Homo sapiens: one gene and its partner. The protein of the gene in region 1 interacts with the protein of each later gene in a biochemical or structural test. Each region holds a gene or a part of one and is shown on either strand. Other genes may lie near its edges. The genes, in order: CNTD1 and NOTCH3.

Evidence for each region.
Region 2: the proteins of CNTD1 (region 1) and NOTCH3 form a complex in vitro, tested with the Homo sapiens proteins (one study listed by BioGRID).

Annotation. Positions count from the first base shown.
Region 1 is NC_000017.11:42,805,168-42,808,979, forward strand, and holds part of CNTD1 (cyclin N-terminal domain-containing protein 1), read left to right. Parts: intron 1-554; coding exon 555-717; intron 718-1,506; coding exon 1,507-1,651; intron 1,652-2,600; coding exon 2,601-2,697; coding exon of another isoform or gene 2,698-2,725; intron 2,726-3,812. UniProt on the Homo sapiens protein: Plays a role in the different steps of crossover formation during meiotic recombination. Participates in the crossover differentiation step of crossover-specific recombination intermediates through its interaction with PRR19.
Region 2 is NC_000019.10:15,190,972-15,194,783, reverse strand, and holds part of NOTCH3 (neurogenic locus notch homolog protein 3 precursor), read left to right. Parts: intron 1-2,264; coding exon 2,265-2,407; intron 2,408-2,485; coding exon 2,486-2,824; intron 2,825-2,916; coding exon 2,917-3,039; intron 3,040-3,126; coding exon 3,127-3,360; intron 3,361-3,812. UniProt on the Homo sapiens protein: Functions as a receptor for membrane-bound ligands Jagged1, Jagged2 and Delta1 to regulate cell-fate determination.

The DNA of each region.
Region 1 (3,812 bases):
ATGCCTATACAGTAAAATATCATTCATTCAACAAATACTTTCTGAGTTTATTCTATGGCCAGATGCTGCACCAGGTGCCATGGCTACAACAGTACAAATATTGTCTGTGCTCACAAGGAACCTATTATGTAATGGGAAAAGACACATACAAATAGTGTGGAAAAAAAAGCTCTGATTAATGTAAATACAGAGGGCTATAAATGTACCTCATCAGCCTTGGAGAGTCAAGGAAGTGTATTTAGAGAAAATGACTTCTTGAAATGGGGTGGGTGGGAGATGGGAGGATCCTAAGAGAAGAGGGAGAGGAATTAGGGAGGAAAGGAAGGGAGATCCAGGTATAGAAAACAGCCTGTGTAGTGGCTTGGAGAGGGACAGCATGGTGGGTTTGGGAACTGTAAGCAATTTGGAATGACAAGCAGAGTGTGAGGGGGAATTACCAAGAGACAAGACTGAAGATGAAGGAATAGGCTGGATTATGAAGGGCTTTGTGCACTCTGTCAAGACGTATGAACTTTATCCTAACATTCTTCTTTCCCTCTCTTTTCTTTGCTCAGATAATCAGCAACATTACAGTCTTGAATTTCCTCCAGGCTCTAGGCTATCTACACACTAAAGAAGAACTGCTGGAATCAGAGCTTGATGTTTTGAAGTCCTTGAACTTCCGAATTAATCTGCCCACTCCCCTGGCATATGTGGAGACGCTCCTAGAGGTTTTAGGTATCTTACTGTGTTAGGGAATATGGGTTGGAGACTTCCATAGAAGGCAATACAAAATGTGCATGGGGGGGCATGGCTCATGCCTGTAATCCCAGCACTTTGGGAGGCTGAGGTAGGTGGATCACTTGAGGCCAGGAGTTCAAGACCAGCCTGGGCAACATAGTGAGACCCCATCTCTACTAAAAATACAAAAATTAGCTGGGTGTGGTGGTGGGCACCTGTAATCCCAGCTACTTGGAAGGCTGAGGCACAAGAATTGCTTGAACCTGGAAGGTGTAGGTTGCAGTGAGCCGAGATCATGCCACTGCACTCCAGCCTGAGCAACAGAGCGGACTCCTTCTCAAAAAAAAAAAAAAATGTGCACAGGGGTTTGGGAACAGTGGGCAGAACCTGCCAATGAGGAACAGTAGGAAGCTTGATGGTGTCTCTGGATGACTGAAACAGGTGTTCCCTCCGGCACTTGTCAGGGAAAGCTCAGAGGTCTTAGCAACTGGCTTCTGTTTGGACTCACTAGGCACTCTTATTGCAGGATCAAAGAGGTGACTTTATAGAGAGGCATAAGATAAGAGAGGGACAACTACATGCTAATTGTATGTATACTACAGATGGAGGTTTCTCTACCTCTACCTTTGTCCTTTAAAACTGATCTCCAGCTAAACAGGTTTCTTGTAGTAGAACATAGCAACCAGGAAGCACATTAGCACCTCAACAGCTTTATGTCACAACTGTGGTTATGATCAGAGAAGACATGATCATAAATTCTCCCTATCATTCCCATACTCCATCTAGGATACAATGGCTGTTTGGTTCCAGCCATGAGGCTGCATGCAACCTGCCTGACACTGCTCGACCTGGTCTATCTTCTGCATGAACCCATATATGAGAGCCTGTTGAGGGCTTCAATTGAGAACTCCACTCCCAGTCAGCTGCAAGGGTAAGACAACTCCTATAGGGTAGGCTCCTTCCAGGAACAGGGAAGGGGAGACAGACCACAAGAACTTGGGGAATGGAATTAGCCTAGCATGGCATCCAGTCCCAGATAACCTACTCAGGCTACCTGGTTCTCATTAGTTCCAATATGTTGTTTGGATGCAGGTGACTGAGCCTGGTCAGGAAAACCCTAAAGGCTTTTACTTTTAAATTTAAATTACTTTAATTAATATATTTCCTTTCCTAGTTTTTCCTTTATAGCTGCATAAAACTCAAGGTTACTGGACTGCTTTGGTCAGTCATTTAGAAAAAAAAACAGTCGCCGGCGCGGTGGCTCATGCCTGTAATACCAGCACTTCAGGAGGCTGAGGCGGGCAGATCACGAGGTCAGGAGATCGAGACCATCCTGGCTAACAGCGTGAAACCACGTTTCCACTAAAAATACAAAAAATTAGCCGGGCGTGGTGGCGGGCACCTGTAGTCCCAGCTACTTGGGAGGCTGAGGCAGGAGAATGGCGTGAACCCAGGAGGCGGAGCTTGCAGTGAGCTGAGATGGCGCCACTGCACTCCAGCCTGGGCAACAGAGAGAGACTCCGTCTCAGAAAAAGAAAAAAGAAAAAAAAAACAGTCACAAGGTTGCAACTTGGACAAGAGTGTTTGATTACTGTAAAGTCAGACTGGTTAAAAGCCTCACAGTTACAATTGTTAGGGAAACAGATAGAACTAAAAAAGGCCTATAAACCATTCAAGACATAAGGCTCATGTTAATCCCAGTTAAGTTGGGGGAGAATGGGAGAGCAGGTCAATGAGCTATTACTTGACCATTTCCTTCCATGTCTAAAAAATCCAAGATGATCGACACAAATAATTCATAGTTGAAGTTCCATGACCCTATGATTTGGAAGATCAAGTTCCATTCTAGCTTTAAAATTAATGTGGTTTTAATCACTCAGGGAAAAGTTTACTTCAGTGAAGGAAGACTTCATGCTGTTGGCAGTAGGAATCATTGCAGCAAGTGCTTTCATCCAAAACCATGAGTGTTGGAGCCAGGTATGCACCACTGAGCAGGACCAGCATGGTGAGAATTCATTTAACAGAAAGCATTTCACCCATCAGTTAAAGGAAAACAGAGGACAACCTACAGAAGTGCCAAGACCCAGGATTAGGATGGGTGTGCAAGATTTGAGAGGGAAAAATCTAGGATAGGGCTGAAATGTTTCCTTGTTTTCCTTTTATAAAACTGGAAATGGAGGCCCAAGTTCGGCTTGTTCATTTCCCTTTATAACGATAACCTGCTATTATGTTAAACTCCAGGCTGGGCACGGTGGCTCATGCCTGTAATCCCAGGATTTTGGGAGGCCAAGGCAGGAGAACTGTTTGAGCCCAGGAGTTCAAGACCAGCCTGGTCAACACAGCAAGACCTTGTCTCTACAAAAATTAAAAATTAGTCATGGCTGGGCGCAGTGGCTCACACCTGTAATCCCAGCACTTTAGGAGGCCGAGGTGGGTGGACTGCCTGAGCTCAGGAGTTGGAGACCAGCCTGGGCAACATGGAAAAGACCTGTCTCTACCAAAAATTTTAAAAAATTAGCTGGGTGTGGTGGCACATGCCTGTGGTCCCAGCTACCCAGGAGGCCAAGGTAGAAGGATCCCTTGAGCCTGGGAGGTAGAGGTTGCAGTGAGCCAAGATTTCACCACTGTACTCCAACCTGGGAGACAGAGTGAGACCCCATCTCATTAAAAAAAAAAAAAAAAAAAAAAAATTAGCCGGGCATGGTGGTGCATGTCTGCAGTCCCACAACTATGTGGACTACTTGGCTGAGATGGGAGGATCACTTGAGCCCAGGAGTTGGAGGCTGCAGTGAGCCATGATTGCGCCACTGTACTCTAGCCTGGGCGACAGAGTGAAACCCTGTCTCAAACAAACAAACAAAACAACAACAACAACAAAGGCCAGGCAGGGTTGCTCACGCCTGTAACTCCAGCATTTTGGGAGGCCAAGGCAGGAGGATTGCTTGAGCCCAGGAGTTGGAGACAAGCCTGGGCAACACAGTGAGACCTCATTTCTACAAAAAATAAACAAAAGTAGCTGGACATAGTGGCTTGCGCCTGTAGTCCCAGCTACTCCAGAGGCTGAAGTGGGAGGATCACTTAAGCCCAGGAGG
Region 2 (3,812 bases), on another chromosome or scaffold:
GAGTTTCTTCATGTTGGTCAGGCTGGTCTCGAACTCTTGATGTCAGGTGATCTACCTGCCTCGGTCTCCCAAAGTGTTGGGATTACAGGCGTGAGCCACCGCGCTTGGACATGGGTCTGAGACTTTTCATTTGCTGTTCCCTCTGCCTGGAATGCCGTTCCCCAGAAAGCCCCATGGCCCCCTCCTTACCTTCATATGTCTGTGAAAATAGAATTCCACCTCCTTGACCCCATCATTCTATCCCCCTTAACCCTGTGGTTTAGCTTCCTACGGCTGCTCTAACAAATTACCATAAACTGGGTAGCTTGAACAATAGTAATTTATTCTCTTGAAGTTCTGGAGGTTGGAAGTCTGAAATCAAGATATCGGCAGGGCTGAGCCTCTCCATGGGGACCCAGGGGAGAACTGACTCTTGCAGCTTCTGGTGGCTCCAGACGTTTCTCAGCTAGTGGCTGTCTCACTCCAGTCCCTGTCTCTGTCTTCTTCTCTTCCTTCTCCCACCCAAATCTCCTTTTGGCTGCCTCTCTCTTTTTTTGAGACAGAGTCTTGCTCTGTCACCCAGGCTGGAGTGCAGTGGTGCAATCTTAGTTCACTGCAGCCTTCAACTCCCAGGCTGAAGCGATCCTCCCACCTCAGCCTCCCAAGAAGCTGGGACTACAGGTGTGAGCCACCACGGCCAGCTAATCTTTTATTTTTATTTTTTAGGTGGAGTCTCTCTCTGTCACCCAGGCTGGAGTGCAGTGGCACGATCTCGGCTTACTGCAACCTCCGCCTCCCAGGTTCAAGCAATTCTTCTGTCTCAGCCTCCTGAGTAGCGGGGACTACACGAGTGCACCACCACGCCCAGCTAATTTTTGTATTTTTAGTAGCGACGAGGTTTCACCATATTGGCCAGGCTGGTCTTGAACTCCTGACCTCGTGATCCGCCCACCTCAGTCTCCCAGAGTGCTGGGATTACAGGCATGAGCCACTGCGCCTGGCCTGTTTGTTTTTTTTGTTTTTTGTTTTTTTTTGAGATGGAGTCTCCCTCTGTCAACCAGGCTGGAGTGCAGTGGTGCAATTTCGGCTCACTGCAACCTCCGCCTCCTGGGTTCAAGCGATTCTCCTGCCTCAGCCTCCAGAGTAGCTGGGATTACAGGCTCCTGCCACCATGCCCGGTTATAATTTTTAATTTTTTTTTGTGGAAAAAAAGTCTCCCTATGTTGCTCAAGCTGATCTTGAACTTCTGGCTTGAAGTGATTATCCTGTCTTGACCTCCCAAAGTGTTGGGATTACAGTTGTGAGCCGTTCTCTTGTATGAACACTTGTCACTGAATTTAGGGCCCAGGTGGATAATTCAGAATAATCTCATCTTGACATCTCTCATTTAATTACATCTGCATAGCCAGGCCTGGTGGCGTGTGCCTGTACTCCCAGCTACGCAGGAGGCTGAGACAAAGAATTGCTTGAACCCCGGGAGGTGGAGGTTGCAGTGAGCCAAGATCGCGCCACTGCACTGCAGCCTGGGTGACAGAGCAAGACTCCGTCTCTTAAAAAAAAAAAATTACATCTGCAAAGAGCCATTTAAAAAAAAAGTAAGGTCCTAGTCACAGGTTCTGGGACATGGATGTCATCTTTTCAGGGGCTGTGACCCAACTGACTACATCCTTCATGGTTCTGATGGCTTTCACCGCCCCCTGCCAGCATGTTGTATATTAATTTGTTATTCGTATATGTTCTCCTTGCCTGGACCTGGCTGCAAGGATCCAGAGGGATAGGGACCCCTTTCATTGTGTTTGTTGCTGTATTTGTATTGCTCAGAACGTAGTAGGTACTCAGTAAATATTCGTTGCATGAATGAATGTGTGTTTTGTTTTGTTTTGTTTCTTTGAGACCGAGTCTTACTCTGTCACCCAGGCTGCAGTGCAGTGGCGCGATCTTGGCTCACTGCAACCTCCACCTCCCGAGTTCAAGCAATTCTCCTGCCTCAGCCTCTTGAGTAGCTGGGACTACAGGCACGCACCACTATGCCCAGCAAAGTTTCGTACTTTTAGTAGAGACGGGGTTACACCATGTTGGCTAGGCTGGTCTTGAACTCCTGACCCCAAGTGATCTGCCCGCCGCAGCCTCCCAAAGTTCTGGGATTACAGGCGTGAGCCACTGCTCCCAGCAAATGTGTGTTTGCTGCTCTGTTTCCCTGCGTGTTTCTTGCCTGTCTTGTGTGTATCTTTGTGTCTGGGGCCATCCTGCCCTGTGCTGCCCAACCAAGCCATCTCTGCCCACAGGTGCCCGCCTGGCTGGGTGGGTGAGCGGTGTCAGCTGGAGGACCCCTGTCACTCAGGCCCCTGTGCTGGCCGTGGTGTCTGCCAGAGTTCAGTGGTGGCTGGCACCGCCCGATTCTCATGCCGGTGCCCCCGTGGCTTCCGAGGTGAGAGGGGAAGAGTCTGGAGGGGAGGTAGTCGGGGGTGTGGTCAGTCCTAAACTCACCCTGTCCTGGTCCCTCCAGGCCCTGACTGCTCCCTGCCAGATCCCTGCCTCAGCAGCCCTTGTGCCCACGGTGCCCGCTGCTCAGTGGGGCCCGATGGACGCTTCCTCTGCTCCTGCCCACCTGGCTACCAGGGCCGCAGCTGCCGAAGCGACGTGGATGAGTGCCGGGTGGGTGAGCCCTGCCGCCATGGTGGCACCTGCCTCAACACACCTGGCTCCTTCCGCTGCCAGTGTCCAGCTGGCTACACAGGGCCACTATGTGAGAACCCCGCGGTGCCCTGTGCACCCTCACCATGCCGTAACGGGGGCACCTGCAGGCAGAGTGGCGACCTCACTTACGACTGTGCCTGTCTTCCTGGTGAGTGAGCCCTACTCAGGAGAGTCAGAGGGGTGGGCGTGGGGACAGCAGGCCAGCCCGGCGGTGACCATCCTTGCCCCCTTCCCTGCTAGGGTTTGAGGGTCAGAATTGTGAAGTGAACGTGGACGACTGTCCAGGACACCGATGTCTCAATGGGGGGACATGCGTGGATGGCGTCAACACCTATAACTGCCAGTGCCCTCCTGAGTGGACAGGTGGGCACTGCGGCCAGAGGGAGCGGGGAGGCAGGCCTCGGGTGGACATGCGCCAGGTGGCTGGACTGCTGCATCTGTGTGCCACAGGCCAGTTCTGCACGGAGGACGTGGATGAGTGTCAGCTGCAGCCCAACGCCTGCCACAATGGGGGTACCTGCTTCAACACGCTGGGTGGCCACAGCTGCGTGTGTGTCAATGGCTGGACAGGCGAGAGCTGCAGTCAGAATATCGATGACTGTGCCACAGCCGTGTGCTTCCATGGGGCCACCTGCCATGACCGCGTGGCTTCTTTCTACTGTGCCTGCCCCATGGGCAAGACTGGTGAGTGGCCGTTTTCTCTGCAGGGAGCCATGGATGGTTTTTAGTGAGGGCAAATAAGAAGTCTGACTTGAGTGTTAGAAAGATTATGCTAGGCTGGGCACAGTGGCTCATGCCTGTAATCATAGCACTTTGGGAGGCCCAGGCGGGCGGATCACTGGGGTCAGGAGTTTGAGACCAGCCTGGTCAATATGGTGAAACCCCATCTCTACTAAAAACACAAAAATTAGCTGCGCGTGGTGGTGCACACCTGTAATCCAAGTCTCTCAGGAGGCTAAGGCACGAGAGTAGCTTGAACCCAGGAGGTGGAGATTGCAGTGAGCCAAGATTGCACCACTGCACTCTAGCCTGGGTGACAGAGTGAGACTCCTTCTCAAATTTAAAAAATAAAAAAAAGATTATGCTAGGCCGGGCACAGTGGCTCATGCCTGTAATCCCAGCACTTTGGGAGGCCA